4 separate regions of the Homo sapiens genome follow, and all the other regions are linked to region 3. The links come from fine-mapping of genetic effects on gene expression. A gene starts in region 3. Each other region holds a variant in brackets. All regions are shown on one strand. Distances are from middle to middle.

Evidence for each region.
Region 1: its variant is fine-mapped to the expression of CPT1B in thyroid (GTEx, PIP 0.97).
Region 2: its variant is fine-mapped to the expression of CPT1B in naive CD4 T cells (Schmiedel 2018, PIP 0.95).
Region 4: its variant is fine-mapped to the expression of CPT1B in whole blood (TOPMed, PIP 0.98).

The regions. Positions count from the first base shown.
Region 1 is chr22:50,549,776-50,557,775 of GRCh38, forward strand. It overlaps KLHDC7B (kelch domain containing 7B), which reads left to right. Exons shown (of 1, transcript NM_138433.5): 1 at 1-1,248. The coding sequence ends at 176. SYCE3 (synaptonemal complex central element protein 3) reads right to left here. Exons shown (of 3, transcript NM_001123225.3): 2 at 6,522-6,630; 3 at 1,337-1,627. The coding sequence starts at 6,630. The coding sequence ends at 1,470. Among named protein-coding and RNA genes, the nearest start is that of KLHDC7B-DT, 4.8 kb to the left of the region's middle. The variant G/T (reference allele first, on the strand shown) is at 4,659.
Region 2 is chr22:49,751,297-49,759,296 of GRCh38, forward strand. It overlaps the pseudogene RPL5P35. Among named protein-coding and RNA genes, the nearest start is that of BRD1, 73 kb to the right of the region's middle. The variant A/C (reference allele first, on the strand shown) is at 4,413.
Region 3 is chr22:50,575,210-50,583,209 of GRCh38, forward strand. CPT1B (carnitine palmitoyltransferase 1B) reads right to left here and starts at 3,218. Exons shown (of 20, transcript NM_152246.3): 1 at 3,177-3,218; 2 at 2,566-2,725; 3 at 2,115-2,254; 4 at 1,648-1,825; 5 at 1,327-1,428; 6 at 989-1,126; 7 at 826-903. The coding sequence starts at 2,706. CHKB (choline kinase beta) reads right to left here and starts at 7,640. Exons shown (of 11, transcript NM_005198.5): 1 at 7,349-7,640; 2 at 7,040-7,148; 3 at 6,540-6,653; 4 at 6,211-6,344; 5 at 5,356-5,451; 6 at 5,149-5,207; 7 at 4,981-5,062; 8 at 4,765-4,873; 9 at 4,518-4,621; 10 at 4,217-4,298; 11 at 3,754-4,046. The coding sequence starts at 7,572. The coding sequence ends at 3,972. CHKB-CPT1B (CHKB-CPT1B readthrough (NMD candidate)) reads right to left here and starts at 7,790. Exons shown (of 30, transcript NR_027928.2): 1 at 7,349-7,790; 2 at 7,040-7,148; 3 at 6,540-6,653; 4 at 6,211-6,344; 5 at 5,356-5,451; 6 at 5,149-5,207; 7 at 4,981-5,062; 8 at 4,765-4,873; 9 at 4,518-4,621; 10 at 4,217-4,298; 11 at 3,827-4,046; 12 at 2,566-2,725; 13 at 2,115-2,254; 14 at 1,648-1,825; 3 more. It overlaps CHKB-DT (CHKB divergent transcript), which reads left to right and starts at 7,817. Exons shown (of 4, transcript NR_110536.1): 1 at 7,817-8,000. RefSeq lists an enhancer at 931-1,225 and silencers at 931-1,225, 2,710-2,789, 3,130-3,249, 7,137-7,336, 7,667-7,756 and 1 more.
Region 4 is chr22:50,520,217-50,528,216 of GRCh38, forward strand. NCAPH2 (non-SMC condensin II complex subunit H2) reads left to right here. Exons shown (of 20, transcript NM_152299.4): 10 at 749-820; 11 at 1,327-1,393; 12 at 1,525-1,632; 13 at 1,770-1,823; 14 at 1,965-2,035; 15 at 2,127-2,199; 16 at 2,285-2,353; 17 at 2,455-2,504; 18 at 2,605-2,706; 19 at 2,801-2,950; 20 at 3,019-4,564. The coding sequence ends at 3,159. It overlaps SCO2 (synthesis of cytochrome C oxidase 2), which reads right to left and starts at 5,382. Exons shown (of 2, transcript NM_005138.3): 1 at 5,256-5,382; 2 at 3,352-4,208. The coding sequence starts at 4,195. The coding sequence ends at 3,395. TYMP (thymidine phosphorylase) reads right to left here. Exons shown (of 10, transcript NM_001953.5): 5 at 7,372-7,501; 6 at 6,949-7,067; 7 at 6,360-6,522; 8 at 6,030-6,260; 9 at 5,785-5,925; 10 at 5,536-5,702. The coding sequence ends at 5,554. RefSeq lists silencers at 5,054-5,353, 5,564-6,393 and enhancers at 6,484-6,783, 6,592-7,163, 6,954-7,153, 7,174-7,323. The variant C/T (reference allele first, on the strand shown) is at 4,921.

The DNA.
Region 1 (8,000 bases), 25 kb before region 3:
TGGGCAACACCATTTACTGCCTCAACCCCCAGGTCACTGCCACCTTCACGGTCTCTGGGGGGACTGCCCAGTTCCAGGCCAAGGAGCTGCAGCCCTTCCCCTTGGGGAGCACCGGGGTCCTCAGTCCATTCATCCTGACTCTGCCCCCTGAGGACCGGCTGCAGACCTCACTCTGAGTGGCAGGCAGAGAACCAAAGCTGCTTCGCTGCTCTCCAGGGAGACCCTCCTGGGATGGGCCTGAGAGGCCGGGGCTCAGGGAAGGGGCTGGGATCGGAACTTCCTGCTCTTGTTTCTGGACAACTTTCCCCTTCTGCTTTAAAGGTTGTCGATTATTTTGAAGCCCAGACTCCCTCAGCCTCTTTCTGCCCCTCACTCCACACCCAGACTGTTTCCTGACTCAATTCCGTACCTACTTACAGACCCTCTCAGCTTGCTGACACCCCCCTGTCTGTGGGACTCCCTATTCCCTAGAGCCAGGGACTGATGCGTCTCCACAGACAAGGACTTGGCTCGCTGGAGCTCTGCTGAGCCGAGAGAGGAGGGGGTAGAAAACATTCACACTTCCTATGCTCTGTCAGCAGGACAGGGAGCAAAAACGTCCCCAGGCAACGCCCTCGCCTCTGGGACTTTCTGCCTGTCCTAAGGCCTCCCCAGGTACCAACCCCGTAGCTATCTGGGTCTGTTTGGCACTGTGGATTCTCAAGGGCCTAGAACCCTTGCCTCTGAAACTGGTCCGCTGGTGCAGCCCTGCTGTCTGCAGCTCCTGCCCATACCCCCAGCCCACACCAGGCCAGGCCCACTCCGGGCTCACCACCCTCTGCAGCCTTGTGGGGCTCTCCCAGCCCCTCCAGAAGCCCACCCCACTTCTCGCCAACCCCCGATCTCTAAATGAGGCCTGAGCGTCACCCTAGTTCTGCCCCTTTTTAGCTGTGTAGACTTGGACGAGACATTTGACTTCCCTTTCTCCTTGTCTATAAAATGTGGACAGTGGACGTCTGTCACCCAAGAGAGTTGTGGGAGACAAGATCACAGCTATGAGCACCTCGCACGGTGTCCAGGATGCACAGCACAATCCATGATGCGTTTTCTCCCCTTACGCACTTTGAAACCCATGCTAGAAAAGTGAATACATCTGACTGTGCTCCACTCCAACCTCCAGCCTGGATGTCCCTGTCTGGGCCCTTTTTCTGTTTTTTATTCTATGTTCAGCACCACTGGCACCAAATACATTTTAATTCACCGAAAGCACCTGCAGCTTGCACTTGTTGTGTTTTGTTCACAAGGTTTGATATGCAGCTGGGTGGATCATGGCACAGGAGAGAAGAGGTCCTCGGGCTGTGCTTAAAAATAAGTTTATTAAGAAACAAGTACAGTGCATACAGCTATTCATGTGGGTGCCAGCTCCATCCCCCAGTGACCTCTTCATACGGGCAGAGGGTGGCATGGCAGCTGTGGTGGGCCAGTGGGGCCTACAGCCTTTGCTTGGTCTCATGCAGCAGCTCTTGCCAGTTCTTCTCCATCTCCTCCTTGCAGTTGACGAAGGCATCCTCCAGCCGACGCATGGACTCGGCCAGCGTAGGGTTGGTGCGCATCACCACCATGTCATAGGCCATCCAGGTCGCCTGCACTGCAACAAGCAGACAGGACTGGTCAGGCCACAGGGAGGGGCTGCAGCTCTGGGGTGCCCCAGAAGGGTCAGATGCCTCCAGCTGGGCTCAGCATCTGGAGGCCCAGATCCTGCTGAGGCACCCAATTACTCTAGGGAGAGACAGCTGGTAGGCTACTTGTTACAGGCTCATAAAAACTCCCTACAAACATCCATAGTGACGCTTCCTAGTCTCATGCAAGGCATAACTTCTGGATACACCAGACATGATGTAAAAAACTAGAGGCTGGTCTGATACGAAATGTGAGGAGAATTAGAGCAAACCGCAGCTCCTTACCTACAAGCAGTTCACAGCCAATGGCTGCAGGTGACCCCTAAGGAGTCATCCACCCAAGCTCACACACTCAGGTAGAGTTGATTGTTTCCAGTCCTGCAAGACCCAAACCTCATGTCACCTTATGTTCAGTGGCCTGGGATGCCTGCCCACCTCCACCTGGGCACCTCTATGCTTTCGTTGAGGCCCAGGCCTGGGGCTTCTCCTCTTGGGAAGGTGTCCTTGACCATCTACCAATGCACTGATGGGCTCTCTTGCTCTTTCCCTCTGACAGCAACTCGAAGGTAGCATTCCCTGGGCCTATAGGTGAACACATGCTTCTTGTGTGAACTCAAAGAAGTGTGTGCAGAAATCCCACCTCCAACTTTTTCTCTGCATAGTCCACCGGCTGGTGTGGTTCAGCCCTCTGCAACTATACAGAACAAAGGTCATCTCCCCTCTGCATGACAACCAACTGTACATAGCAAACACATCCCCTTAAAATTCCTCTTTGTGGAATCCTCACAAGCATCCCAGATCGTTCCGGTGCAGGGAGGCCGCAGACTACCTGGACAGCAGGTGCAGCAGGGACCTGGGGCCAGAGCAGAGTACGCCTCCCAGCTCCCCACCTGACGACTCTGTGACCTGGAACAAGTGTCTGCAATGTATCAATCTCGGCCGGGTGCGGTGGCTCACGCCTGTAATCCCAGCACTTTGGGAGGCCAAGGGGGGTAGATCACGAGATCAAGAGATTGAGACCATCCTGGCCAACATGGCCAGTGTTCCTGGCCCATCTCTACTAAAAATATAAAAATTAGCCGGGTGTGGTGGTGGGTGCCTGTAGTCCCAGCTACTAGAGAGGCTGAGGCAGGAGAATCGCTTGAACCCAGAAGGTGGAGGTTATATATACATAAATCTCAGTCTCCTCATCTTTGGAGACCCTACCAATCTCATGGCTTACTGTGAGAATTAAATGGGTGATATATGTAAACTGCCTGGCACACATGTTATGGACTGAATGTGTCCCTCCCACATTCACCTGTTGAAATCCTAACCCCCGACGTGATGGTATTAGGAGGTCGGGTCTTTTGGAGATGATTAGGTCCTAAGGGTAGACCCTCCTGAATGGGATTAGCACCCCTTAAAGAAGAGACACAAGAGCTCACTCTCACTCTATGCAAGGATATGTGAGGCTCTATGTGAGGATACAAGAAGGTGGCTGGCCGGGCAAGGTGGCTGGTACCTATAATCCCAGCACTTTGGGAGGCTGAGGTGGGTGGATCACTTGAGCTCAGAAGTTTGAGATCAGACTGGGCAACATGTTGAAACCCTGTCTTTACAGAAAATACAAAATTTAGCTGGGCATGGTGGTGTGCACCTGTAGTTGCAACTACTCAGGAGGCTGAGATGAAAAAAAGGATCCCTTGAGCCTGGGAGGTGGAGGTTGCAGTGAGCCAAGATTGCACTACTGCACTCCAGTTTGGGTGACAGAGTATGACCCTGTCTCAAAATAAATAAATAAATAAATAAAATCCCAAAGTGCTGGGATTACAGGCCACTGCGCCCAGCCATAACGTTTTTTTGAGTGCAAATTAAATCATTGTTTCTTGGCTACAATAATCCTCTAGAGAGGACCAGATTGTAACTTTTCCTCATATTTTTCGTTGGTGCCCTAATGGAATAGGTTCCTTTTTCTGTTCTAATGCACAAATTACTCTTATAATTGTCAAACTTATCTCCCCTCATTTTGCTTCCAAGGAAACTAAAATCATGGTATTCTGCAGATGACCAAAGATATGAATCTCCCTCATTTGGCATCGCACTGGGCCCGGATCTGTTACACTGCAAATGCCCTGCTGCTAAAACGATACAAACACCCTCCCTCTATGCCCAGGGACTATCACAGAAGAGAGAGTCTCGCTCCGTCACCCAGGCTGCAGTGCAATGGTATGATCTCGGCTCACTGCAAGTTCCGTCTCCTGGGTTCAAGTGATTCTCCTGCCTCAGCCTCCTGAGTAGCTGGGATTCCAGGCATCCACCAACACGCCCAGCTAATTTTTGTATTTTTATTAGAGATGGAGTTTCACCATATTGCCCAGGCTGGTCTCAAACTCCTGACCTTGTGATCCTCCTGCCTCGGCTTCCCAAAGTGCTGGGTTTACAGGTGTGAGCCACCGTGCCCAGCCTGTAGCAGATTTATATAAAAATGCAATATGCGGCTGGGTGCGGTGGCTCATTCCTGTAATCCCAGCACTTCGGGAGGCCAAGGCAGGCAGATTATGAGGTCAAGAGATTGAGACCATCCTGGCTAACACGGGGAAACTCCATCTCTACTAAAAATACAAAAAAAATTAGCCATGCATGGTGGCGGGCACCTGTAGTCCCAGCTACTCGGGAGGCTGAGGCAGGAGAATGGCGTGAACCCGGGAGGCAGAGCTTGCAGTGAGCCGAGATTGTGCCACTGCACTCCAGCCTGGGCAACAGAGCGCGACTCTGTCTCAAAAAAAAAAAAAAAGCAATACGCAGCGTAGGTCATTTGGCATGCCAGATGGGTTAGGATTAAATGTTAAAAAGGAATACGGAGAAAAGTAGAAGAAAATACAACTAAATATTTCACTGATCTCAGATTGAGGAAAGACTTTCTAGGTGTCAAAATAATGGCAATAAATCAGAAAGGAAAATATTGATAGATTTTTCACTACATAAAACTGTTTGCTGGCTGGGCGTGGTGGCTCACGC[G/T]TGTAATCCCAGCACTTCAGGAGGCCAAGGCAGGTGGATCACCTGAGGTTAGGAGTTTGAGACCAGCCTGGCCAAAATGGTGAAACTTCGTCTCTACTAAAAATACAAAAATTAGCTGGGCATGGTGGCAGGCGCCTGTAATCCCACCTACCCAGGAGGCTGAGGCAGGGGAATCACTTGAACCCGAGAGGCGGAGGTTGCAGTGAGCTGAGATCACATCATTGCATTCAAGCCTGGACGACAGAGCAAGACTCCGTCTCAAAAAAAAAAAAAAAAAAAGGCCAGGCGCGGTGGCTCACACCTGTAATCCCAGGACTTTGGGAGGCTGAGGCGGGCAGATCACAAGGTCAGGAGATCAAGACTATCCTGGCCAACATGGTGAAACCCTGTCTCTATTAAAAATACAAGGCCAGGCGCGGTGGTTTACGCCTGTAATCCCAGCACTTTGGGAGGCCGAGACGGGCGGATCACGAGGTCAGGAGATCAAGACCATCCTGGCTAACACAGTGAAACCCCGTCTCTACTAAAAATACAAAAAATTAGCCAGGCGTGGTGGCGGGCGCCTGTAGTCCCAGCTACTCGGGAGGCTGAGGCAGGAGAATGGCATGAACCCGGGAGGCGGAGCTTGCAGTGAGCCGAGATCACGCCACTGTACTCCAGCCTGGGCGACAGAGCGAGACTCTGTCTTAAAATAAATAAATAAATAAATAAAACCAAGCTGTGCTCTGACCACCTTGGGCACATGTCATTAGGACCCCCTGAGGCTGTGTCACAGATAAGTGTCCCCAAACTTGGCAAAATAAACTCTCTAAATTAACTGATACGTGTCTCAGCTATTCATAGTTCAAAAGTACATAGGCAAAAAATTGCAAACATTTCTAAGGAGAAATTTTCTAAAGTCTGCTCTAGTGAATAAAAGCTATTTGGCCAGGCACGCTGGCTCATACCTGTAATCCCAACACTTTGGGAGGCCAAGGTGGGTGTATTGCTTGGCCAAAGTTGGTTCAAGCCGTGAGGAGAAGGAGAAATTGGGTATGCCTCGTTATACCTGCCTCTCTTTTGGAATTCAGGAAAAGGTGACTAGCATTAACATGAACACAGACCTTAAGTTTGATAAGAAAGCTTTTTACAATCTATTCCCTCTGAAGCCTGCTACCCGGAGGCTTCATCTGCATGATAAAACTCTGGTCTCCACAACCCCTTACCGTCATAACCCAGACATTCCTTTCTATTGATTCCAGGTCTTTAGACCATAACTCTTTCAACCAATTGCCAATCAGAAAAAATTTAAATCTATCTATAACCTGGAATCATCCCCCTTTGAGTTGTCCCACCTTTCCAGATCGAACCAATGTACATCTTTTTTTTTTTTTTTTTTGAGACAGAGTCTCACTCTGTCGCCCAGGCTGGAGTGCAGTGGCACCATCTCGGCTCACTGCAAGCTCCACCTCCCGGGTTCATGCCATTCTCCTGCCTCAGCCTCCCGAGTAGCTGGGACTACAGGTGCCTGCCACCACACCCAGCTAATTTTTTGTATTTTTAGTAGAGACGAGGTTTTACTGTGTTAGCCAGGATGGTCTCGATCTCCTGACCTCGTGATCCACCCGTCTCGGCCTCCCAAAGTGCTGGGATTACAGGAGTGAGCCACCGCGCCCGGCCGAACCAGTGTACATCTTACAGGTACTGACTGATGTATTCTCTCTCCCTAAAATGTATAAAAGCAAGCTGTACCCTGCCAACCTTGAACATATGTCCTGAGGACCTCCTGAGGCTGTGTCACAGGTGCATCTTTAACCTTGGCAAAATAAACTTTCTAAATTGATTGAGACCTGTCTCAGATACTTTTGGGTTCACACATCCTACCTGAGATTTTCTCCATCTCTTCTAATAGCTTTTCCAAGTCCTTATTCAGATCTGACAGCATTTTCAGCATGTTGTCATAGTTTCTTTCCTCAGGGTCAGCATCATCCATCTAGGCAATGCACAGAAAGAAGCTGCAGTCAGACAGACCTACATTTCAAATCCAGCTCCACTGGTTATAACTCAGTGATTTCTCTAAGGAATTCTTTCCCCATCTCTCAGATTCAGACAATACCACGTACTCCACAGGGCTGTTGTGAAGGTTAAATGGGAACATGTCTAAAGGCCCCAGCATAGCATTCGGCACATATAAGTTGTCCTTCCCCTTTCTTCCATCTTTGCCATACAAACGTAGCTGAAGGCTGGAGTCATTAACACAGAAAACATCTTCATTATAATGAAAAAAGTCTGTCATAATGGTGACATGGAATTTTTTCTTGCAAAACCATATTGAGTACCCACTAAGATGCAAGCTATTGTGCTGATGTGTTTCAAAGATACAATTCCTGTACCTAAGGAATTTCTAGTGCAATATGGGAGTAAGTCACACACACCATATGACAAACCAGGATGTGACAGATGTCGAAGCAGTTAATGTAATAATTACAGACATCAAGCGATGGGAGCCTGGAGGCGGGTACGTTTAATTTTAAAATATGAAATGATTCATACATTAAAAAAAATTATAATCAACTTAACTTTCCAGAAGAATTCTCCTGGGCATTAGAGGCAGTGCCCCATAGAGACTGTCCTGGTTCTGGAATTGAGCTGCCTGGGTTCAAATCTTGGCGCTACCTCATATCAGCAGTGTTACTTTTGGCAACTTACACATCTTCTCGACAAATTTTTGGTAATTTTTTTGAGTTTTTTTTTTTTTTTTGAGACGAAGTTTTGCTCTTGTTGCCCAGGCTGGAGCACAGTGGCACGATCTCGGCTCACCACAACCTCTGCTTCCTGGGTTCAAGTGATTCTCCTGCCTCAGCCTCCTGAGTAGCTGGGATTACAGGCAAGTGCCACCACGCCCGGCTAATTTTGTATTTTTAGTAGAGATGGGGTTTCTCCATGTTGGCCAGGCTGGTCTCAAACTCCTGACCTCAGGTGATCTATCCACCTCGGCCTCCCAAAGTGCTGAGATTACAGATGTGAGCCACCACACCCAGCCAAGTTTTGTATTTTTTAAACGGGAATTATTAGTATTACCTATATCTTGTGGAGTTTTGTGAGGATTAATTGAAATAAATTATATACTGTTCAGCACAGTACCTACCGTAATGAGCACTTAATAAATCATATCCGTTGTTATTTAAAATGTTGAACAGTAATTACATCACTCCAGATCCTCTCCTCACCTTTATTAATATACATTAATTCATTCTGTTAATATTTGATGCTCACCTATTTATCTACAAGGCACTAGTAAGAAAAGAGAGAAATAGATAAATAATGTAAGAGCTGCCAGGGAACTTGTAACCTCATGAAGGT
Region 2 (8,000 bases), 820 kb before region 3:
ACTACAGGCGACCACCACCAGGCCCGGCTAATTTTGTTTTTGTATTTTCAGTAGAGACGGGGTTTCACTGTGTTAGCCAGGATGGTATCAATCTCCTGACCTTGTGATCCGCCCACCTCGGCCTCCCAAAGCTCTGGGATCACAGGTGTGAGCCACCGTGCCCGGCCCAGACTTTTCTTTTCTGTGAATGCTACATGTTTTGGCATCTAGCCTGACAGGTAGAATTTACTTGCAAGGACCTCACATTGATCATCAGTCAAGGATCAGGGCTCCAGAAGTAAATCATACAGAAAGTGATCACACCGTGTCTCAGGCCACACATGGCCCGTGCGTGCCAGTCCCAGGCCACACATGGCCCGTGCACTCCAGGCCCAGGCCAAGCCTGCGGCCGAGTGGGCAGGTGACCCTGGGAGGAGCAGAGGAGACGGGAAGGCAGGTGCCCCTCAGCTCCCTCCAGCGCCCACCTGGCTGTGGTTTCTCAGCGGGAACAAGAAGAATGAAGACCAAACCCTGAGGGGAAGATGTTTCCCAGCCTCTGGGCCAGAAAAGCTGCTCCAGGGAGGAGAGGGGTTGCACATGGTGCCCCACGTCCCCTGTCAGAGGCCGCTGGCAGGACCACATCCCAGAGCCCCCCCAGAACCCGGGAGGCGCAGGCCTGGAGCCCAGCCAGGCACACACCAGGGCTACTCTGACCCTGGAAAGAGGTTAGAAACAGCCGCTGTCTGGATTCTCAATGACAAAGGGATGGATGTTGAGGAAGACAGAGGGGGAGTGGGTGTGGGAAGGAGGACACTGAACAGAAAGGGCCTGGATGCCCACGATAACAAAAGCAAAAGCTGAGGAAACTTCACAGGGGGCAGGGTTGGAAAGAGGAGGGGTGGGGTTCAGGCTAGACAGAGGAGGGGTGTGGTTTAGGCTGGACAGAGGAGGGGGTGGGGTTCAGCCTGGACAGAGGAGGGGTGTGGTTCAGACTGGACAGAGGAGGGGGTGGGGTTCGGGCTTGTTCTGCAAACCCAGCGTGGGTACCTCGGCCTTTCTTATCCCCAGCATGCACTTGGAGCCTGTGCCCCTCACCTGTCGGCGCTCCCAGCTCGGGGGTTTGTGCCCCTTCCTGGTCCCCTCCCCTTGGGTGTTGCCGGGACCTGTTTCTTGCTCCTAAGCCACATCATAGGATCAAAGCGATAGAGTGTCCGTGGCTAAGTGTGTGTGCACGACCACACCACGCACGATTGTGACCCTGCCTTGCTGGAGCCGCTGTCTCCTTTGCTGCGGGAACACAGCAGCCGTGCTGGGCAACACCACGTACCTGGGACCTTCGGTGGCCTCTAGCACCAGAGTGCAGCCTCTGGACAAAAGCCAGTGAGAAAATGAAGCCGTCAGTCCTACAGTTGGAAGGACGGATGGTTGCCAGCACCCTGAGTGAGCGTGGAGGTGAACTCTGCCCCAGCTCAGCCTCCAGCCCAGCCGCCACCTGATGGCAGCCTGTGGGCCCAGCAGAGGACCCCACGAAGTGGCGCCAGACCGCTGGCCACAGAGACTGAGATGACAGATGTGTGTCGTTTTGAGCTGCAAGATTTGTGGTGACCTTGTTACACAAGGACAGACGCTAACACAACGGGTTCCCACAGCAGGTCTCCAGGGCTCAGGGAGTTCTAATCACGAGACCTCGGGGGGGGTCTTTCGGCTGAGTGCAGAGAATAACGCGGCTGAAGGTCACGGCCAGACGCCTGAGGACCAGCCACTGACACCCTCAGCATCGAGAGCTGCTGCCGAACTGTGGCCAGGCCCTTTCCTCTTTTTTTTTTTTTTTTTTTTTGAGACAGAGTCTTGCTCTGCCGCCCAGGCCCAGGCTGGAGAACAGTGGCGTAATCTCAGCTCACTGCAACCTCCATCTCCCTGGTTCAAGCGATTCTCGTACCTTAGCCTCCCAGTAGCTGGGATTACAGACATGCGTCAGCACACCCAGCTAATTTTTGTATCTTTAGTAGAGGTGGGTTTTCACCATGTCGGCCAGGCTAATCTCGAACTCCTGGCCTCAAGTGATCCACCTGCCTCAGCCTCCCAAAGTGCTGGGATGACAGGTGTGAGCCACCGCGCCCGGCCAGCCAAGCCCATTTCTAAGAACGTCCATGGGAAGGAAGGAGGGATGTAGCCAGGGCCAGGACCACCCCAAGAGCAGAGTGATGGGTGCGGGTGGGGAGCAGAGCTGGAAGGGGCCCAGGGGCCGTGGTTCGTGGACCTCAGGCCCAGGCCAGCCCCCGAACGCTGCAGCTCCTGGCTCTCCAAGCAGCTTCCTAGGGACCATCAGTAAAACTGTGACAGCAAACCCACAGTAATGTGATTTAATTAAGAGATAACGACAGTGGAACTGGGAATTGTGCCGGGTAACGGGTCGTCATCGCCTCGGGAGCAACAACTCGGAACTCAGGATATTAATGCATCACCGTGGCACTGTTTGGGGAGAATTGCCGTGTTTTTCAAATGCCTTCAAACTTCTATTTTCCTTCCACAGTCTCTGAGTTTGCCCCAGCCCCCCACTGATTAGTTCCAGCTACATCTGCCTTTTCTCATTAAAAGAAAAGCTTGTGCATTTTATTTTCAATTAACTTGCAGGAATCTATCAGGAGAAAGTCCAGCTGAACCTCATCATTCACAGTGCAATTTCTCAGAACCGCCAGGGACGGCAGGTGTGATCCAGGGTGGGGCTGGCCTCCCACCTGCTGGGGCACGTGCACTCCAAGGGCTCTCTCGGGCCAGGGCCGCTGCGCTCAGCCTCCTGCACAGACGCACCTGCTGGGGCACGTGCACCCCAAGGGCTCTCTCGGGCCAGGGCCGCTGCGCTCAGCCTCCTCCACAAAGCAGGGAGTGTGGGGAGAGGCCTCATCACACTTCCCACCTGGCAGCAGGTGCCTGGACACCTGAATCTCCTCCACTCTGCCCTCCAGTCTTGTCCCCTTGAAGACACATGGGGCAGGGCCAGACGGCTAATGCGTTAGGATATGGGTTCTGGCCTCTGGCAGCTCTCAGAGCCTGCCTGGCGCTCCCTTGGTGAGAATCTGACCTCTGGGCACCTCTTGACTCCCCTGGCAAGACAGAGTGGCCTGAGGGAGCCATTGGTCCCAGGGGACACTCGCCAGGACCCTCCCGCAGGCTGTGGATGTGTGTGGCCTGTCCTTGGCTTCCCTGGACCAGACCTGCCCATGGGCCTCTGGTGTACGTGGGTTCAGTGCATGGCTCCTGGGAGAAGAGTGGCTGTTTAGCCACTGAAACATCACCTTCCTCACAGCTCTTTCCTCTTATAAGTTTGTGCCTTTCTCCAGGCCCCAGCTGTGCCCAGTGGCAGGGATGAGATGAGATGTTCTGAAGTACTCGTCAAAGGCCCGGAGAAGCATCGCATGGGACAGGAGGGGAAGGACTCCTGGGGGCACGTCCTGGGCCTCTGCCCGGAGACCCAGTGTCTTCCTGCCAGCATCTGCTGCCAGGCAGCAGCACCTCCTCCAACACCTCATGCCAAGCATTTAGTGTTTTGTTTGGGAAGTCGCCGGGCACAGCCTGTCTTGCAGGACGCAGGAGAGGACACTGGAAATATCACTCATCATCAGAACAACCCTGTTCTCCAGGGCTCAGCCCTCACCTCCACTCCTCAGGGCACGGACAGGTGGGCGGGGCCGGGAGCCTCCGCAGCCCACACCCCTGCGAGGGGTCTTGCAGGAGGGGAGGCATCTGCGGCAGAGCCCAGCGTCCCCACTGCCGGCATCCCTGCCTGTCTGCAGTTCAGCCTGGCTCCCAGCAGGCCCGGCAGCATCTCCTCTGTGAGCTCCCAGCCCCCTGCCACTGCACATCGCAGGGCAGCCTCACCTCCCCATCCCTGGGAGGACAGGGTCCCTGGAGCGGACACGGGAGTGGGGCCGCCTCACATTTGCTCCCAGAGCAGACCCTCCTGCTTCCCTCCACAGCAGGCCCTCCGCGGGAAGCCCCCTCCCATGCCCTGTCCCCCACACAGCAACCCCGACCGCCTTCACCCAACCTGCCCCACCCCCGCTGCAGCCCCTTTCCAGCCCAGCTCCTGCCCCCCACCGACCCTCCTCCTTCTAGAAGCTTCTCCCCTTGGCATTCAGGTGAGGTAAGAGACTGGCAGGACTAGTTTTCTGGTCCCAGCCCCACTGACCCAACCAGGACCTGGTCCAGGCAGGATGAAGTGAAAAAACCAGCAGAAACCAGCAGACGATGAGAGGCAGATCCCTGGCTGCCCTCACTGCTCATTGGCATCAGACATGCCCACCAGTGCCATGACAGTTTACCAATGCCCCATAAGGTGCCACCCCTTTCCATGGCAACGCCCCATAAGGTGCCACCCCTTTCCATGGCAACGCCCCATAAGGTGCCACCCCTTTCCATGGCAACGACCCATA[A/C]GGTGCCACCCCTTTCCATGGCAACGCCCCATACGGTGCCACCCCTTTCCATGGCAACGCCCCATACGGTGCCACCCCTTTACATGGCAACGCCCCATACGGTGCCATCCCTTTCCATGGCAATGACCCATATGGTGCCACCCCTTTCCATGGCAACGCCCCATATGGTGCCACCCCTTTCCATGGCAACAACCCATAAGGTGCCACCCCTTTTCATGGCAATGACCCAGAGGCTACTGCCCTTTTCCTAGAAAATTCTAAAATGACTTGCCCCTCAATTTGCATTGGCCCATCCTTAATTTGCATGTAATTGAAAGTGGGTTCTCATGGGTATAAGTATAGCTGCCAAGCACCCATACACTGTTGGCTGTGGGTGCACTGCCTAGGAGTTAGCCCTGTCCTCAAGAAGCAGTACCGTTCAATGAAAGACTGCTGTCCAACGCCACTAGCTCACCCTTGAATTCCCCTTGGGGAAGCCAAGAACCCTCCCAGGCTAAGCCCTAGTTTGGGGTCTTGCCTGTCCAGTAACAGGGGGCCCTCCCTCTGCCACTTCACTGCCCCTTCCTTGTTCCCCCTCCAAGTGCAGTGCCCAGAACCCAGACACCACCCACTCACGGGACCTTCCCTCTTTCCAGAGAATTCTGAGTCTCGGCCTGGCTGTCCTAACTCCCCTCCCCACAGCTTTTGACTTTCACCTCCACTGGGCTGTCCAGCCATGACCCCAGCCCCCGGCCCCTTCCTGTTACAGCTGGAGGGTCCTGACTCCCACGTCCCCCACAGGGGCCCCCAGCAAAGCACAGCTCCAGACCTGTGGGCCCCATGCAGGCACCATGGTTCATACCTGTAATCCCACCACTTTGGGAGGCTGAGGCAGAAGGATTCTCTCGAGCCCAGGAGTTACAGACCAGCCTGGGCAACACAGCAAAACCTTGTCTCTAAGGAAATAAAAGCAAAAATAAAGAAAATCAAGATGGTAGCAGCAGAGCAGGTCCTCCCACGCGTGCTCGCCCAGCATGTGGCTGGAATCCTGCCAGCTCTGCCCCTCTTCCTGCAGGTGAATGATGGGGACCCTGCACAGTGCCCCCCTCCTCAGAGTTGCCTGCCCTGATGCCCACACAATGACAGCCCCGCCCTCTCCAGCCCCTGCTGTGTCCCTCCACCTTCACCCCACAGTGACTGTGTGCTTCTGTCCGAGTCCCCATGAACCACAAGCCCGTGGTTGAAGGTCTCTTCCTGTTGCTGAAGCCCCAGTCCCTGGTGTGTCCCCCAGGCTATGGTAGGGGTCCCAGAGCATCTGTTGACCACTGTAGTCAGTTCCAATTTCAGACATCAGTGTCCACAGGGGCTTTGGTGCGGATGCCAGTGCTTTGGGCTGGCCTCTTCTACAACTCACCTCCAGCCATGTCATGGCCTCAGCTTAAATCCCTTCAGATGCACGACTGACCAGGCCAGCACAGCAGCCCGTCCACCTGTCTGGGTGACCCTCCTGCCCTGCTGGCCTTTTCTCAGGGCCAGGCTGCAGGTTAAGGCTACAGTGAGCTATGACTGCACCAATGCACTCCAGCCTGGGTGACAGAGCAAGACCCTGTCTCAAAAAAAAAAAATTATCAAAATCAAAAATGAAAGATGGGATATCACTACAGATCCGACAGAAATAAAAAGGATGATAAGAGAATGCTATGAACAATTTTATGCCAACAAATTACATAACCGATTAAATGGACAAATTACTGAAGGAAACTACAAAGACTTACTCAACAAGTAAACAGATTGAAATAGTAATTTTTGAAATTTCCACACTGAAAAGCACAAGGACGGACGACTTCACTTGTGAATTCTACCACACTCTTTTTTTAGTTGCTGTCAACAAGCTTATTGTCTTTATCTGGAAAATCCTCATAGAAATTGTTTGGTTTAGCTTTCAGCAGCCTGCTCCTGAGCTCTGAGGAAGCTTGCCTTCTTTTGAACTACCCAGTCTTTCTTCTGAGCAAGGGACGTTTTCACCTCTTCTTTTTAACTTGTTTCTTAGGCTTCTTTTCATAGACTGGATTATCTTGTATAGCAGCATGAGCTTTCTTTTTTTTTTTTTTTTTTTTTTGAGATGGAGTCTCGCTCTGTCACCCAGGCTGGAGTGCCGTGGCGCAATCTTGGCTCACTGCAACCTCCACCTCCCAGGTTCAAGCGATTCTCCTGCCTCAGCCTCTCGAGCTGCTGGGATTACAGGCATGAGCCACCAAGCCCGGCCACAGCATGAGCTGTCTTATACATCTCCTCCATCATGTCTGGAGTTAAGCTTTTTTTTTTTTGGTGGAGTCTCACTCTGTCATTCAGGCTGGAGTGCAGTGGCGCGATCTCAGCTCACTGCAACCTCTACCTCCCAGGTTCAAGTGATTCTCCTGCCTCAGCCTCCCAAGTAGCTGGGATCACAGGCACCCACCACCACATCCAGCTAATATTTGTATTTTTAGTAGAGACGAGGTTTTACCATGTTGACCAGCTGATTGTGAACTCCTGACCTCAAGTGATTGCCCTACCCCGACCTCCATAAGTGCTGAGATTACAGATGTGAGCCCCTGCGCCTGGCCTACCCTGTTCTTTATGTATTGAGAGAGTTTCTTGTAAGCATCTTCATCTTCCTCCATTAAGTAACGCATGTAATCTGCAACATTCTGGCCTATGATGTGCTTCCAGTGTACTTCTGCATTAAATTCTTTGCTTTCAGAATCATGACCAGGGAATTGTTTGGTACCGTGAGGGACAGACCAGCCTCCATCCACAGCTCCCTTTAGGGCACCAAAAACTTTATTGCCAGCGGCAGTTCTGGCAAGCTCTGCATCCAAAGAGTAGACAAAGGCACCCAGCTGACCATCTATGCTCTCCACACTGTATTCATCGCCAGTCACCTCCACTTGGCCTTCTTAGATCTTGTCCAGGCCAAACCTATTGAGAAGCCTGCGGGCCAGCAGCAGGCCAGGACAATACACTGCAGTGTCATTTGTCAGGCCAACCTTCACACTATATTTTGGCAGTTCGTGTGCATATGCTACACAGACTATCATATCCCCCTCTATACGGGCATAAGCAATCTAACAAATGATATCTCTGTTTGTTACACAAACTATCATCCTGTATTTGGATATGTGGTGTTTATTTTTATCCTGTATCACCAAATGTTTCTGAGCATAGTGATCAGTTTTACCCTCGCCTCATCGTCTAAATTTCACTTGGTATCTCTTAAAGCAGGCCTTATTCTTAATTTTAACAAACCCCATCCTATGGAACAGAGACCCACGTCTGTGGCTCAACAGAGACCTACGGGCCCAGCAGCGCAGGGCAGGGAAGGGCTTTACCAAGCATTTAAATAAGAAACGCTAATCCTTCAAACATTTTTTCAACATAACGGAAGAGAAGGTAAGACTTCTAGATATGGTTTGGATGTCTTGTCCCCTCCAAATCTCATGTTGAAATGAGATCTCCAATGCTGGAGGTAGGCCTAGTGGGAGGCATTTGGGTCACAGGGCTGGATGCCTCAAGAATGGCTTGCAGAAATGAGTGAGGAGAATTCACTCATTATTCCTGAGGCCTTCA
Region 3 (8,000 bases):
TCACCGTGTTAGGATGCTCTCGATCTCCTGACCTTGTGATCCACCTGCCTCGGCCTCCCAAAGTGCTGGGATTACAGGCGTGAGCCACTGCACCCGGCCCGAGCTGCCTTTTTATAAGCTATTTTATGTGCTTATATTCTACTTCTTTTGCTTTGATAAAGGGGTTCTACCACTAAAAAGCAGTTTAAAACCTCTGCTATGGGCAAGTTGTGTGTAAGTTCCTGGAAGGACAGCTTATGGAGGAGAATTCCAGTAGGCTCTGGCAAGTCAAGTGTGCTTTGGACCGTGGGAAAGGAGAGAAGAGGCATGCCATACAGCCCAGGTGGCTGGGAGACCCAGAGACTCAGAAGGGCCAGTTACATGGGGCAGAGGCAGACTGACTTCCTGAGCTCTAAAAGCAGCAGCCTGGCCTCCATTCTGCTGTCCGGCTCTGCAGAGGGACACAAAGCAAGACACGTTCTAGACAATTCCCTGGTTATGGTGTCAGGACAGCTGGGAACCCATGGCCAGGAGGCCAGTGAGGAAACCAAGGAAAGAGGTGACAGAGCCCGAGCTGGGCAGGGGCAGTGACCCCGGGACTCTGAGAAGCGGTGGCAGGCTGGCGGTCTCCACTCTCCTCATCCTTAGGATCCCCATTGCCCCTAAGCTGCTTCTGGACTCTTCTAGGATCTCCTCTCTCTCTTCCCTTTCCCTCAGGCCTCACTCCATAACCCCCACTTGCCCACGGAAGCTGCTACTAGAGCTCTGGGCTGTCCTCCAGATCCCTTGCCTTGGAGCTGGGACAGAGCTGAGCACGTGCGGGGACCTGGGGGCTCTAGTTCATACCATGACATAATAGTTGCTGTTCACCATGAGAGGGCTCCTGCCTCGAAGGTAGATGTACTCTTCCCACCAGTCACTCACCTGTGGGGAGGTGGAAGGTTAGAGCTGGGGCGGGTGCAGCCAGGACACATGGCAGGTGACAGTGAGCCCAGGGGCAGGAACTTACATAGTTACTTGCCCACCATGACTTGAGCACCAGGTATTTCTGCAGCCTGGGGGCAGTCTTGTCCTGGAATTCTTTGGCCAGCAACTCCATGCGGTAATATTCCTCATCATCCAACAAGGGGCGCACAGACTCTAGGTACTGTCCAGCCAGTTATCATCACCGTGGGGCCAGATGGCAAGGGCTGCCTCTATCTTAATCCTCTTCCCACCTCTCCCTCCTCACCCAGCCCCATTATTCTCAAGCCCTTAAGGCCACTCTTTGCACAGAACCTTATATTTGGAAACATCTCCTGAATCCAACCTCCCCTGCCCACTGGGATGCCCAAGCGAGGCCCTCACCCGCTGAATTGTGGCTGACACCCTGGGCACAGGAAGCTTGGGCAGAGATGTCTGGAAGCTGTAGAGCATAGGGTGCCGGCTGGATAGAAGGCGGATACACATCTGGGGGTACAGAGCAGAGTGCTGGGGTGGGAGCCAGTGGAAAAAATGGAAACCAACCAGCAACTCCCTGAGACCCTCAGAGCCATCCCAGCCCCTCCAGGACAAACCACACACCAGGCACCAGTGCCCTGTCTGCCTCTCCCGTCTAGCTCAGAACCCCAAAGGAGTCCAAAGAGTCTCAACCCAGGTGCCTGAACCCCTCCACTGGCTGCTGCTCACAGCCCAGATCCTGGTCAAGTTGCTGGTCTTGCCATGCATCTCAAACATCCACCCATGGTAGCAGAGAAGCAGCTTCAGGGTTTGGCGGAAGAAGAAGATGCCCGTCACCCAGACGCCCGTGGAGAAGATGGCCATGCTGAGAAGTGCCCGGGTCTGCGGGGTCTGGTAGGGGCCACACCTATTGGAGAGGGGCAAGGGCTGCAGGGGGTCCTCTTGAGGCCAGCCTCGGGTGGCTGTGAACTGTCTCAGGGGAGACACCAAGGGGAAGAACCTCCCTGGGCACACTCATGTCTGACTGCATCAAATGAGCGGATGTAGGGCTAAGACAATGGTTGTCATAGGGGAGGGCTGCCCCGTGACTGCCAATGGCTGCTGTCCTGTATCTGCCCAGCTCAGGAACCTCAGCCTTGGGAGCTGGGCCCAGCCCTCCCTGGTGGCACCTGTGCCCTTCCAGTTTCACTCCTTACCCCTGAGGGAGGCATCTCTGGATGCAACTGACCAGCCCCAAGGAGATGTCCACGTTGCAGAAGGAGGAACCCACTGTTGCCATGATGACGACCAGCCAGCTGGTGGGGCTGCCAGGGTACACGCCCCTGAGGATGCCATTCTGTGGGCAGAAACAGGCGCCCTTATGGAGCCGGAAGGCGGGAGGTTAGCCTGCCTGTGAAGTCTTGGGAACTGGCTCCTGGTCTTGGCCTGGAAGGCTTTCTCTCCTGATGCCCTGCTGTGCTCCTTCCTCCGCCACACCCACAGCTCCCTGTGTCCGACCACATCCTGTGCACCCCTCTGGTGTCTGTACTTCCACAACCTGTACCGGGCAGAAGTGCCAGCCAAGGAGGCAGTGAGGGACCCTAACAAAGCGCTTAACAGCTGACAGCCGGCCTCTGCCTACGCTCTGGGAGAAGCACCTGTGCGCACCTTGATGCGGATCAGGCGTTTCTTCCAGGAGTTGATCCCAGACAGGTAGACGTGTTTCAGGGCCTCCCGACTGAGCCGGAAGTCGACCCCGTCTGGGGTCACCGTGAACTGGAAGGCCACGGCCTGGTGAGCTTCCGCCATCCTGGGGGTTGGTCGGCACCTAGGACGGGGGCAGATGGGTGCGCGGGCGCGCTTAGGCCGGCCCCGCCGCCAGCCGCGCCGAGACGCCCCCAGCCAGTCCGCGACCCCTCGCGCCCCCCACCCCGCGACTAGCGGCTGCCCCCGGCCCGCGCCCCCCGCCAGGCCAACCGCCGCCAAATCCTCGCGCCAGCCTTCCGGGTGGGCACAGCCACTGTGGTGCAGGGGATTTGGGCCTTGAAAGCTCCAGGAGCCCCAAGGACGGCGAAGGGCAGCCTGGAGTTGGGGGGCGTCAGCGAGGGCGCGGGCAGGGGAGAGAGGCGCCCCTGGAAGTGGAGCCGGCCTGGACAGAGGCAGGGTTCGGGAGCCCGCCCTTCCCCACCCGAGCGCGCGGGCCCCAGCGCCGTCCTCGCCCCTGTGCAGGGCTGAGGGCCCAGACCCCCGCGGGCCGCCCTGTGCCGGCCCCTACTCACAGCTCGGGTTCACTCCTGTCCGTGCGTGGGGCCAGCCACTCTGGCCCGTGTCCCCACGTCCTTCAGGCCTAGCCACCCCCGCCCCGCCCTCACCAGGAACCTGACACCTACTCCCAAATCGGGGTCGGGGAAAAACGTGGGGCGAGAACCAGAACCCACCCACCTTCCGCGGTGGGAATTGCAGGGCGCGGCTGGGTTTCTGTGCGGTGAAGGTTGCTCAAAGGTCTGGGAGCCTGGGGGGCCCCAGAGTCTCGTGAGGATGGTGGCTTTAGAGCTAAAAATAGCCAAATGTAGGGAAAAGGTCACCGATGTGTCAGCTGCTGCCTGTTCTGGGATCGCTGGTGCTCCGGGCGGCATCCCCACCTCAGGGTCGTCTTCATACCCCCATCACTCTCCTCCTCCCCAAGTCCTAGTATTTATTATTCTAAGCTGCAGCCAGGGGACTGGGGAGGGATGGGGGACCCCAACTGGCAGCATGAACGCTAACCACTTTCAATCCCAGAGCACTGAAGAGTCCCTTTGTGTGTACTGCTCGGTTTGGTACTTTCTGCTGCTGCTCAGCAGGGCCAGGACAGGGTGGGAAGAAGAAGCTTGTTTATTGTGTTACATACACAGCACGGGGCTCTGGCCTGCCAGCCATGGGGACCTACTCAAACTCAGGAACAGGCCGGTCTCCTGAACCTCAGTTTCACTTGGGGGCTCAGCCCAGTCGCCAGGGCCTTCTGCTCGTTGTTCCTCCCTCCAAGGTCCTGCCCTGGAGGCTCCAGGAGAAATCCAAGGAGTGGGAGGGTGGAGTCAGGATGAGGAGTGGACACTGGTCAGCTGCCCCTTCTGCTGGAAGTAGAACTGGAACCGAGACTGGGCATAGTCCTAGGGAAGGAAACCCACCCCACACAGTGGTGAGAAGACGTGGGACCAGCATTCTACATCCACCTCAGGCTGCCCACAGCCACCCGGGACTCCCCAGGCCTCCTGGAAGAGTGTGGCTGCTGCTGCTCCCCAGCCCCCCAGCTAGCATTCCCATCCCCAGGGTCACTTACCAAGTAACCAAATTCTATGGTGGACATGGATGCCTGGAGGATGGACCACAGACCCCAGAAGAAATGGGATGCCAGAGCATACCTGGGGGGAGGGCAGGAAAAGGAGGGGCATTCAAGAGCATGTCTAGCACTGCTTGGATCCCCTCACCCAGGTTGGCCAATCCCTACAGTTTTAACTTCTCCCCCACTGTCCTAACTCCACTCTCCACAGCCACCTTCCCTGCAGCTTGATAAATCTGCCTCTTCCCCAATCCCTCTTTCCTCTGCTCTGCCCTACCCCACCCTGCCCCTCCTTCCTCACCGACTGACTTCTACCAGCAAATCTTCTTCCAGTTTTCTCTGCTCCTCTTGGGAGAGGGTCTCACCTTTCTTTGCCTCTGCCAGGTAATGACGAATAAAATGCAACTACGATCAATGGCCAAGAGTCAGGAATTGGGGAGACTGTGGAGTATTTCCCAGGTAACATCCTTTCCGGCCATTCCTTCCAGACTCCACCTCCCTCCTTCCTCACAGGATGGGTCCTGCTCCCCAGCCTCTGGCCCACATACCTGCTGTTCTTGAGTGGGGTAGTCTGTGGGCCTTGCTTTGTAGAAAGGCCATTCCTCGTGAGTATAATCATAAACCCACTCACAAAAATGGTTCCCAATGTCAAAGCCCCTGGGAGAATAAGGTGGACATTCAGTCCCCAAATGCCCTGGGCAGCTGGCCTGTTTTCAAGAGCCCTATGGGAACAGATCTATGGGAAGCCATCTTTCCAGCCTCACCTATAGTTATAACTGCTGTACTCGAAGTCCACCAGCATGAGGCTGTCAGCATTTTCTGGCTCTGAGAGCAGCAAGATGTTCCCTGGGGGAATGGGGTGAGGTTCTGCTCACTCCAGAGCCCTCTGGCTCTTCCATCTTGGGTTAGGAGACTCAGATGCCTTCTCCTACCTTCCTGGATGTCATTGTGGCAGAAGACGACTGGCGATGGGGTAGACTCTAGTAACTTCCTACAGGGGTATGGGAGCATGGGTCCTGAGCAGGAGTGACTAGAGGAGGATCAGAGCCACCCTAACAGGCCAGGCCCTGACACCAGCCCTCAGCAACTACTGGAAGGGCGGACACCATTACCATTAGCCTTGTCCTGCCTGCCCTCACCTGAGGTTGCCCATCTCATCCTTCAGGCTGTACATCTCCAGCAGGTTCATCTCAGGGAGGCCAGTTGGGGGCAGGTCCTGGATCTGTTTTAGGTACCTGAAGCCCAAAGAATAGGATACACTGGCTCTGCTATTCTTTCCCACCCCTCGCCTATCTACCCCTCAGGCCAGACTACTGCACCCCTGCTCCTATCACTGTGTGACTTGTCCGGCAATCATTTCTTTTTTTCTTTTGAAATGGAGTCTTGCTCTGTCACCCAGGCTGGAGTGCAGTGGCGCGATCTTGGCTCACTGCAACCTCTGCCTCCCGGGTTCAAGCAATTCTCCTGCCTCAGCCTCCCGAGTAGCTGGGACTACAGGTGCATGCTGCCATGCCTGGCTAATTTTTTTGTATTTTAATAGAGACAGGGTTTCACTGTGTTGTCCAGGCTGGTTTTGAACTCCTGAGCTCAGGCAATCTGCTCACCTCAGCCTCCCGAAGTGCTAGGATTACAGGCATGAGCCACCGTGCCTGGCCTTGGCAATCATTTCTTTTTTCTTTTTTTGTTTGGTGTTTTGAGACAGAGTCTTGCTCTCACCCAGGCTGAAGTGCAATGGCATGAGCTCAGCTCACTGCAACCTCCGCCTCCTGGGCTCAAGTGATCCTCCCACCTCACCCACCTCGGCTCCCAAAGTTCTGGGATTACAGGCATGAGGCACTGCATGTGGCCTCTGGCAAGCATTTAAAAGCCTGTTCTGTGACAGCCCATGACATCAGATCCACTCAAGTGGAGGGCTGGATAGAGCCCCCGACACATCCGCTGGCATGGAGGTTCAGCTCAGGAGTACAGGAGCCCTGAGGAGGCTCCTGACTCACCGCTCCATGGTCCCAAACAGCCAGTGGGGCTCCTTGGTGAAAGGCATCTCCATGCCATGAAATTGCGCCATCTTCGTGGCAATGGCTGCTGACAACACTGGCTCTCGAAGCTCTTGAGTTTTCAATGGCCGACTCTGCACCCAGGAAGCTATCAGGGTGGTGATGGGGCTGGGGCAGGAGTGGGAAGGGCTGGGGCAATGAGGGGAAGTCAGGGTTTTGGGGGAAATTCCCTACTTGGGGTGAGGGATGTGGAGGCAGACATTGGGCACTGGGGTAGGGTTAGGGGGTGGAGGTGCCTTGGGGAGGAGAGGGTAGGACTGGGCCCGTACTGGGATGTACTGTTCCAGCCGGCCCTCTGGGAAGACTCCGTACAGCTGGGGCCCCAGCGACCGCTCCGCAAGTATGGCGAACATCACGCTTTCTAGCACCAGGGAGTCCACGCCCTGAAAAAGGATGGACAGCAAAGGGGCCAAGGCAAAGTGGCACAGGGACACACATGAGGGCTCGCCTTCCTCCCACCAGAGCTGCGACTTCTGATCCAATTGCCTGGAGGCTCTGGAGCACAGGCTTTAGCGTTGGTCTATTTTTATTTAGAGATGGGGGTCTCACTATGTTGTCCAGGCTGGTCTCGAACTCCTGTGCTCAAGTGATCCTCTCGCCTCAGCCTCCCAAAGCTCTGGGAATACAGGCCCAGGCTTCGGTGTAATGAGGTGTTACTCAGACCGTGAACCTCGGTGTCCTCAACTGCGCAACGGGAACAATACTACCCGCATCGCGTAAGCGACAGGCCCTAAAGCCACTGGTGCTGCGGCGCTCACACCCCCCTCACCTGCAAGATGGCTCCGTACAGCCGCAGAAGCACCTCCCGGGGCTCCTCGCCAACGCTGGGCAGGTGGTCCGGGAGCGAGCAGCGGAAGAGCAGGTTGCTGAGGCCTCCGCTGCAGACCCACACCAGGCGCGCTCAGCCCGCGGCCGGCCCTACCTGCCGCGGCCCCGGCCCCCTCCCGGCCAGGCCGGCCCCGCCCCGCCCCAGGCGCGGGCGCAAGAGGGGGGCGAAAACATGGAGCATCCTGAGGGCCCCGCGGCTGACCCCTGACCCCGATCCGCGCACCGGAGAGGCTGACCCCTGACCTCCCACCTCACGGGGTAAACCCTCAGCTCCTCGGGCTGCACTCGGCGCCAGGCCCCGCCCAAGTACTCCCGGCACCATTGGTAGGCTCGGCGCTCGGCGTCACGCGACAGCGACGAGGCGCGCCGCCGTTTTGGGGTAGTGTCCGGGCACTTAGACTGCTGCAAGCCGTCTTTGGCCAGGCAGCCGCCAACAGCCCCGCTTCCGGCCACAGCTGTCGCCTCGGCCGCCATGGCGCGGGCTCGACCGGGCCCCAGGCCAGGCTGCGCTCCGCTCCCTTCGGACGGGCTCGGTTCCTTCCGGCCGCGCTCGGCTCCTCTTCCGGCCGGCCTGGGCTTCTCCGGTCATACTCGGGTCTCTCCGGCTCTATTCGGCTCACGGCTGCGGCGCTCGGCTCTCTCCGTGCCCCGGCCCGGGGGCTCTTTCCGAAGGCCGAATTCCGCAGATCTCTGCCGGGCCCCGCCCCTATGGGCAAGGACCAATGGTCTCTCTCTGGGCGGGGCTGCTGTTGGACGGCCTGGGCCAATCCGAGGCGCCGGAGGCCAATCAGTTGGCGGAGCGGCGCGTGCGCGGGCGAGGAACTGCCCGGGCGCGGTAGCGTACGGGAAGACCGGAGAGGAGCTGCGTCTCTGCCCCGTGGGAGCCGGCGGGGCGGCGGGGC
Region 4 (8,000 bases), 55 kb before region 3:
CCCAGAGAGTACTAGCAGGGTTTATTTTTATCTTATTTTATTTATTTATTTTTGAGACAGGGTCTTGCTCTGTTGCCCAGGCTAGAGTGCAGTGGCCTGATCTTGGCTCATTGCAGCCTTGACTCTCTCTAGGCTCAGGTGATCCTTCCACCTCAGCCTCCCGAGTAGCTGGGACTACAGGCGTGTACCACCACACCCGGCTAATTTTTGTATTTTTTGTAGAGACGGGGTCTCACTGCATTGCCCAGGCTGGTCTTGAACTCCTGGGCTCAAGTGATCTACCCGCCTTGGCCTCTCAAAGCACTGGGATTATAGGCGTGAGCCACTGTGTCCGGTCCCTGTAGGTTTTTTTTTTTTTTTTGGACGGAGTCTTGTTCTTTTGCCCAGGCTGGAGTGCAGTGGTGTGATATCGGCTCACTGCAACCTCTGCCTCCTGGGTTCAAGCGATTCTCCTGCCTCGGCCTCCCGAGTAGGTGGGATTACAGGTGTGCGCCACCACACCCGGCTAATTTTTTTTGCATTTTTAGTAGAGGCGGGGGTTTCACCATGTTGGCCAGGCTGGTCTCAAACTCTTGACCTCGGGTGATCTGCCCGCCTTGGCCTCCCAAAGTGCTGGGATTACAGGCATGAGCCACCACGCCCGACCCTTGTAGGGTTCTTGATGTTAACCCAAGGTGGAGTTCCTGGGGTACCCAGAGCCTTGAGGGGAGAAAGAGGAGAAGTGGGGACCCTGTGACTGTCTTTGCAGAGTGCTGCCCTGCCCAGGAGGTACATGCTGCGGGAGCGGGAGGGGGCCCCAGAGCCTGCATCCTGCGTGAAGGTAGGAGTGTTGGGGCCCTGACCCCCGGCAGGGAGGGATGGGCGGATTCGAGGACTGGCTGCCTGCCCATCATGCTCTTGCTCCTGCTGGCCTGTGGTGTTCCCAGCCTGTGGCCCTTTGCACTTGCTCTCTTAAAGACCCCCTCATGCGACTCTGGGCTCCCACCCTCTCTCTAGTGTTCCCCTCTGTGATCCAGGATTTGAGTGTGGTCGGCTCTGCCCCAGGCTGTCACTGCACTTGTTGCCTGGGCTTTGGGAAGGCGGCTGTGCACCCCCTACTCCTCTGGGAGGGTGGCTGTGTACCCCCTACTCCTTTGGGAGGGTGGCTGTGAACCCCCTACTCCTCCTTTGGGAGGGTGGCTGTGCACCCCCTACTCCTCCTTTGGGAGCGCGGCTGTGTACCCCCTACTCTTCCTTTGGGAGGGTGGCTGTGCATCCCCTACTCCTTTGGGAGGGACGGCTGTGCACCCCCTACTTCTCCAGCGCCTTCTTGTGCTCTGTGCCCAGGAGACTCCAGACCCCTGGCAGAGCCTGGACCCCTTTGACTCCTTGGAGTCTAAGCCCTTCAAGAAAGGTAATTGGGTGGAAGGTACCTCCACTCAGGTACCCCTGGCTGGGTTTCCTGGGGCATGAGGTGGGGGGGTGGGAGTGGGCTTTGCACCCTGATCCCCCAGCGGCTCTAAGACAGTCCCTGTTTGCCCCCAGGTAGGCCTTACTCTGTGCCCCCCTGTGTGGAGGAGGCTCTGGGACAGAAGCGCAAGAGGAAGGGCGCTGCCAAGCTGCAGGACTTCCACCAGTGGTACCTGGCTGCCTGTGAGTGGGTGTGGTGTGCACTCCGGACCACTGGGAGCTGGGGGCTGGGCCAGGGCCAGTGGAGGAGGATCAGCACCCTTTTCCCAATGCTGTGGGCAGCTCTTGGCCTGGCTGGTGCTGAGCATGTTCTTTCACAGATGCAGACCATGCCGACAGCAGGCGGCTTCGGCGAAAGGGTCCGTCCTTTGCAGGTGAGGCTGAAGTCCTCGGGGAAGACAGTTTTACTCTCCTTCCCCTACCTCTTCCCCCACCTGGTGTCACCCAAAGCCTTGGGTGGACTGGCACGGGGCCTGGGAAGGACGAGGGAGCCCTCACAAGGCCTTTGTCTGCAGACATGGAGGTCCTGTACTGGACACACGTGAAGGAGCAGTTGGAAACTCTCCGGAAGCTGCAGAGGAGGGAGGCAAGTCCCAGCTGGTCAGCTGTGATCTAGGACCCCGTGGTGGCCCTGATGGGAGGTGACAGTGCCCCTCACAGATGCTTTCTCTGGACAGGTGGCTGAGCAGTGGCTGCGGCCTGCAGAGGAGGACCACCTGGAGGATTCCCTGGAAGACCTGGGGGCAGCAGGTGGGTGCCTGCCAGGGGGTGGGGTGGGGCTTGGCACCTGCCGACTAGCTGCCTGCGTGCTGTTCACTCTCCCACCTCCCAGCAGATGACTTTCTAGAGCCTGAGGAGTACATGGAGCCCGAGGGAGCAGACCCCAGGGAAGCCGCTGACCTTGGTAGGTGGGCAGCGGGCTAGGAGTGCTGAGGGGCCACTGGAGCTGGGGGCAGGGGAGAGCGTGGCCCCTTAGCTGCCCAGCTCACAGCTACCCCTTCCCAGACGCAGTGCCGATGTCCCTGAGCTACGAGGAGCTGGTTCGAAGGAATGTGGTAGGCCTGGGTTAGAGGGAGACGGGGAGGGGAGGGGGACAGGTGAGCGGTGCCCAGGCCCCTGCTTGGGAGGCAGTAGCTCCTGCTGATCCTCCCCTAGGAGCTCTTCATCGCCACCTCCCAGAAGTTTGTCCAGGAGACAGAGCTGAGCCAGCGCATCAGGGACTGGGAGGACACAGTGCAGCCTCTGCTCCAGGAGCAGGTGAGGCGGGGCCGCTGGGAACCAGAGCTGTGTGCCACGGGTCTGTCCAGGGCCTTGCCTCTCTCCGCAGCCAACATGCCCCTCCCCTGTGCAGGAGCAGCATGTGCCCTTTGACATCCACACCTATGGGGACCAGCTGGTCTCACGGTTCCCCCAGCTCAATGAGTGGTGTCCCTTTGCGGAGCTGGTGGCTGGCCAGCCGGCCTTCGAGGTGTGTCGTTCCATGCTGGCCTCCCTGCAGCTGGTGAGTAGCCTGGGATACGTGGGAGGGGGAGACGGTCCCCAGACCCTGCTGATGTGCCACCCCTGCAGGCCAATGACTACACAGTGGAGATAACCCAGCAGCCCGGGCTGGAGATGGCCGTGGACACCATGTCCCTGAGACTGCTCACGCACCAGCGAGCGCACAAGCGCTTCCAGACCTACGCTGCCCCCTCCATGGCCCAGCCCTGAGTGGGGAGCACCGAGGCAGGGGTGGGGGAATGTGTACTGAGGAGCCGTGTGTCTGCTCCTGGCTGGCCCGGCCTAATAAAGCAGTGTTGCCATCTCATCTTCCCCCTAAAAACCCTTTTATGTACACCTGCGCAGAGAAGAGGGCTGCCTGGCCTCCCTGGGCCGCTGGTACAGATCACACACACACACAGATTAAACGCAGCCCGTTTAATGATGGGGCCCAGACTGCAGTGGCTCAAGACAGGACACTGCGGAAAGCCGCCATGTGCCGCCGCACACTGTCTGAGATCTGCTCAGCCGATCTGCTCCGGCCGTAGTAATCCGTGAAGAGGCCGTCAGGGTTGAGCAGGTAGATGGCAATGGAGTGGTCCACGATGTAGTCCTGGTCCTCATCCTTGGGGCCTGCATTGTAGTACACGCGGTAACTGTGACTAGCCTGGGCAACCTGTTTGGTGGAGCCGGTCAGACCCAACAGTCTTGGGTGGAAGTCCTGGACGTAGCGGGCCATGGCTTCAACGTCGTCCCGCTCGGGGTCCACAGTGATGAAGACAGGCTGCACTGGAGGCAAACCAGGCTCTGCTTCCAGCTGCCGCACCACCTGCACCAGCTTCTCCAGCTCGTCTGGGCAGATGTCAGGGCAGTGAGTGAAGCCAAAGTACATCAGCACCCACTGGCCCCGGAAGTCAGCCTTGCAGCGAGCCCGGCCTCTGTGATCCAGCAGGTGGAAGTCGCCCTGGCCCACAGCTGCCTGGCGCAGGGCTTCTGTTCGCTTTTGCTGCTGCAGCCTCTCCTTCTCAGCCCTCAGGGCCAGCCAGGCCCCACCGAGTCCAGCCCCGAACAGGCCTGTGATCAGCAGCCGGGTTCGAAGCCCAGGGCCCTGGGGCTGGCCCTGCCCACCTGTCTCTGCAGGGCCCTGCCTTGACAAAAGCCAGGACCTCAGATGCAGGGCCTGGCCTCCCAGGGTCCCAGGGAGGACCCGAGGCTTGAGCTGAGAGAGCCTGTGCCAAGCTGTGGGGCTCCGAGTCAGCAGCAGCATGGATCTGATGCTCCTGGAAACAAGCACAGGCGTCAGGAGCCAGAAGGGAAGGCCCAGGACAGTGCCTGGGCTGCCCCTGCGACTTGAGACCAGCCACCCATCTGAAGGACCCAGCCCACGTTCAGGCTTAACAGGCATTTGCAGCTGCTCACCTGAGCTCAGAACTCCACCTCCACCAAACATCCACACCTGGGCAACCACACCTGTCACTCCTGTCCTCTACCTGGGATCACCAGCCTGTCACCGCACCCTGCCCTGCACCTGCACCTCAGCAAGGTGAACCTCTTGCTGACGGAAAGCATTCCAAGTGCATGCCTTGCCTGAACTAACCACGTTATCTATTTGCAATAAACCCATTTCTTAAAAGGAGGTGGGTAACTCTCTGGCTTGCAATCCCCGAGAGCAACCGATTCCTCCAACACTTTCCTGTTACCTCCAGCCACTTCAACCAACCGCGGCCTTCCTCCACACTCCCAGCAGAAAACCTGCACGACCTACCCCCGGAGCTCAGACTCTGCCCGCCGGCTGTGTTTAACCTCTCCTGGCAGAGACGCACGACACTTCCACCCGCCACAAAACCCCACCCTCCTCACATCCAGGCTTCCCAGCAGCTCCTCCGGGCTCACAGCCGACGCCCTGCCTTTGCGTTGGTGACCTTTGAGCCTTTCCCACGGGCCCCCGCAGAAGGTTTGCTAGGTGGAGGTCTCAGGACTCCCGGTCACTGC[C/T]CCCTCCTGCTGAGGGCACCCTCCCGAGGACTCACTGCACCCCCGCCCGGGCGGTTCTGGGTTTGTGCCCTCCCCAGCAAGGCCAGCGCCCTCGTGGCCAGAAAGGTTCCAGGACCACTCGAAGCGCCGCGCGAGCGCGTTATAACTGTGCTTGGCCGCGAGAACACCGGTGCCTGCTGGGAGCCTCCCACGGGCGCCCCAGCCTCGCTCCGGCCTCCAGCGCGCCCTGGGGTGTGCCCCGCCAGCCCCGCGCAGTAGCCGGAGCTGGGAAACTACCCCGGAGTCCAGCGAGTCCTCAGGGCTACCTCCTCCCCTCCCAGCCCCGGCGTCCGCACCTCGCGGCGGGGCCGCGCGTCAGTGGACCAAGCACGAGAGGAAGCGCCGACCTCCAGCTCCCTGCGCTCTGCCCCGCCGGCTCAGGGAAAGCGGGCGCCACACGCTCACAGGCAGGGCGCAGGCGTCCCCGGAGCTGCGCATGCGCACACGGGCGCAGCCGCTGACAGGCTCTCAGCGCGTGCGCGGAAGGCGGAGCCCGCCGGGGGTCACGTGTTCATCGAGACGGCCCCCGCCTCCGCAGCCCTGGATCCTTCCGCTCCCGCCCAAGCACTGACAAGGTTTCGCGGCAAAGGAGCTTTATTGCTGCGGCGGCAGAACGAGCTCTGCGAAGGGCGAGGGGGCGGCGAATGGCGCGCGGTCGGAGAGTACGAGCGCCTCCTGCAGGGCGCGGCTCTGCGGGCCGCTGAGCGCGGGGCCGTCCCGGTGCACGCGGAGCCAGGGGGTCCCTGCAGAGCGAGGGGCTGTTAGAGGCCGCGCGGCCGGAGCTGGGCGGGGGTGCGGGGCCAGCAGGGCGGGGGCGGCGCTCACCACGGCGCAGCCTCTGACCCACGTCGACCAGCAGCTCTGCGCCCACCCCCAGGCGGAGCGGCTCCCCAGCGCGGCTGCGCCCGGCCCCGAGCTCGTGCAGCACCAGCGCCAGCGGCAGCGCCCGGACCAGCTCCACGGTGCCTGCGGGGAGAGGGGCTGAGAGGCGCGGGCTCGGGAAGGGGCGGGGCCTCGGGAAGGGAAGGGGATGGCGGAGGCGGAAGGACGGGGACTCCCCCGACGCTCACCATCTGCGGGCGCCAGCAGCTCCTCCTGCTCCCGGGCGCGAGGCAGCAGCTGCCGGCGTTCTGCGGGACTTCCCGAGCACAGGGCTCGGGCCAGACCGGGATCCACGCCCTGCGCCGCCAGCATCCGCTCGAAGCGGCCAAGGGCCGAGCCGTCGTCCAGCGCCGCGGCCACCCGGGCAGCGCCCTGGGCCTGAGTCCCCGCGTGTCCGCTGAGCCAGAGCAGGGCGCCCCCTGCGGGCGGGGACGGGTCTTAGGCGCGGCCGGGTCGGGGCGGCCCCAGCGGGAAGCACCCCCCGCCGCCTCCGCTCCCCTACACCCCGTCCCCCTCACCGAGCGTGGTGACCAGGTCCCTTAAGTCTGGCGGGCCTGCGCCGTCCATGCAGAGCAGCGCCTCCTCCACCTCCAGGGCGTGGCCCACGCAGCGACCCAGGGGCTTGTCCATGGCGGTCAGCGCTGCCGCGACCCGAAGCCCTAGGCTGGCTCCCACGCCAACCTGCGGAGAGGAGGCTCAGCGTGGACCCCCCATGGCGGGGCCTTCTGCAGCCGGTTCTTGGTCGAACTCCAGCCCCTGCTGCACCCTGGGTTGCCAGCCCCCCAGCATGAAGTCAGGGAAGGATTGGGGTGGGGAAGAGACACGAGTGAAGTGCGACACCTCGCCATGGGGCCAGGAGGAACTTGTACTTGGTCTGGGGCAGGAACGCCACAGAGGGCTTCCCCAGGTCCAGGCCGGGCCAGCCTTGACCTCTAAAGTCACAGCAGGTTAGGAAGCCGTGAAGGAGGGAGGGACTTCGGGCAGAAGAGGGTGGGACTGGGGTTAGGCAGGACTGCTGAGTGGAGGGAGGCAGTGGGGACGGGAGGGGTGAAGGGTAGGCTGGGCCCGCATCAAGACGCTTGCCCAGGGAAAGGCCACACCGCTCACCAGCGTCTTTGCCAGCTCCCGGGCCTGCTCCTGGTTGGGGAAGACGGCGGCCCCTCCGAACTTAACGTCCACCACCAGAGCGGACAGCCCCTCCACGAGTTTCTTACTGAGAATGGAGGCTTTGGGGGAGGCAGAGGAGGTTGGAGACAATGGAGAACCTGGAGCTTCTTGGGAGAGTTCGGGGATGCCGACTTTGGGGTCAGGGGCCCTGAGCATTGAGGGTCAAGTCCCTTATTATGGGGGTGGCAGCACCTGGTGGGTTGAGTATCAGGCCACCCCACATGGTGGTGGTCAGGCATCTTGTGATGGGGGTAGGGGGGCACACGGTCAGGTGACGGGTAACTCCTAACGAGAGGCCCTTGACTTGAGTTTGGAGGTCAGGAGCCTGTGAACATGCAGAAGCAGGCCATGGAGTCAGGTCACCTGTGATGAGTGGCAGGCTGTCCACGGTGGCTGTCACATCTCTGGCTGCATATAGGATTCCGTCCGCAGGAACCAGCTGCTCACTCTGACCCACGATACAGCAGCCCGCCTGGTCCAGCAGCACTTGCATCTGGTCAGACATCCCCTGTTCTCAGTGACTTATGGTAAATGACTTAGCAGCTTTTTTTTTTTTTTTTTTTTTTTCTGTGAAGAGTCTTCCTCTGTTGCCCAGGCTGGAGTGCAGTTGGCACAATTTCGGCTCATTGTGACCTCTGCCTCCTGGGCTTAAGTGATCCTCCCACCTCAGCTTCCCAGTAGCTGGGACTACAGGTGCGCACCACCACACGCGGCTTTTTTTTTTCTTCTTTTTTTTGTAGAGATCAAGTTTCACTATATTACCCAGGCTGATCTCCAACTGGGCTCCTCTGCCTCCCAGAGTGCTGGGACAGGGTCTCACTCTGTTGCCCAGGCTGGAGTGCAGTGGCATCGTCCCGGCTCACTGCAGCCTAGACCTCCCAGGCTCAAGTGATCCTCCTGCCTCAGCCTCCTGAGTAGCTGGAACCACATGCGTGCACCACCACACGCAGCGAACTATTTTGTAGAGATGGGGTTTTGCCGTGTTATCCAGG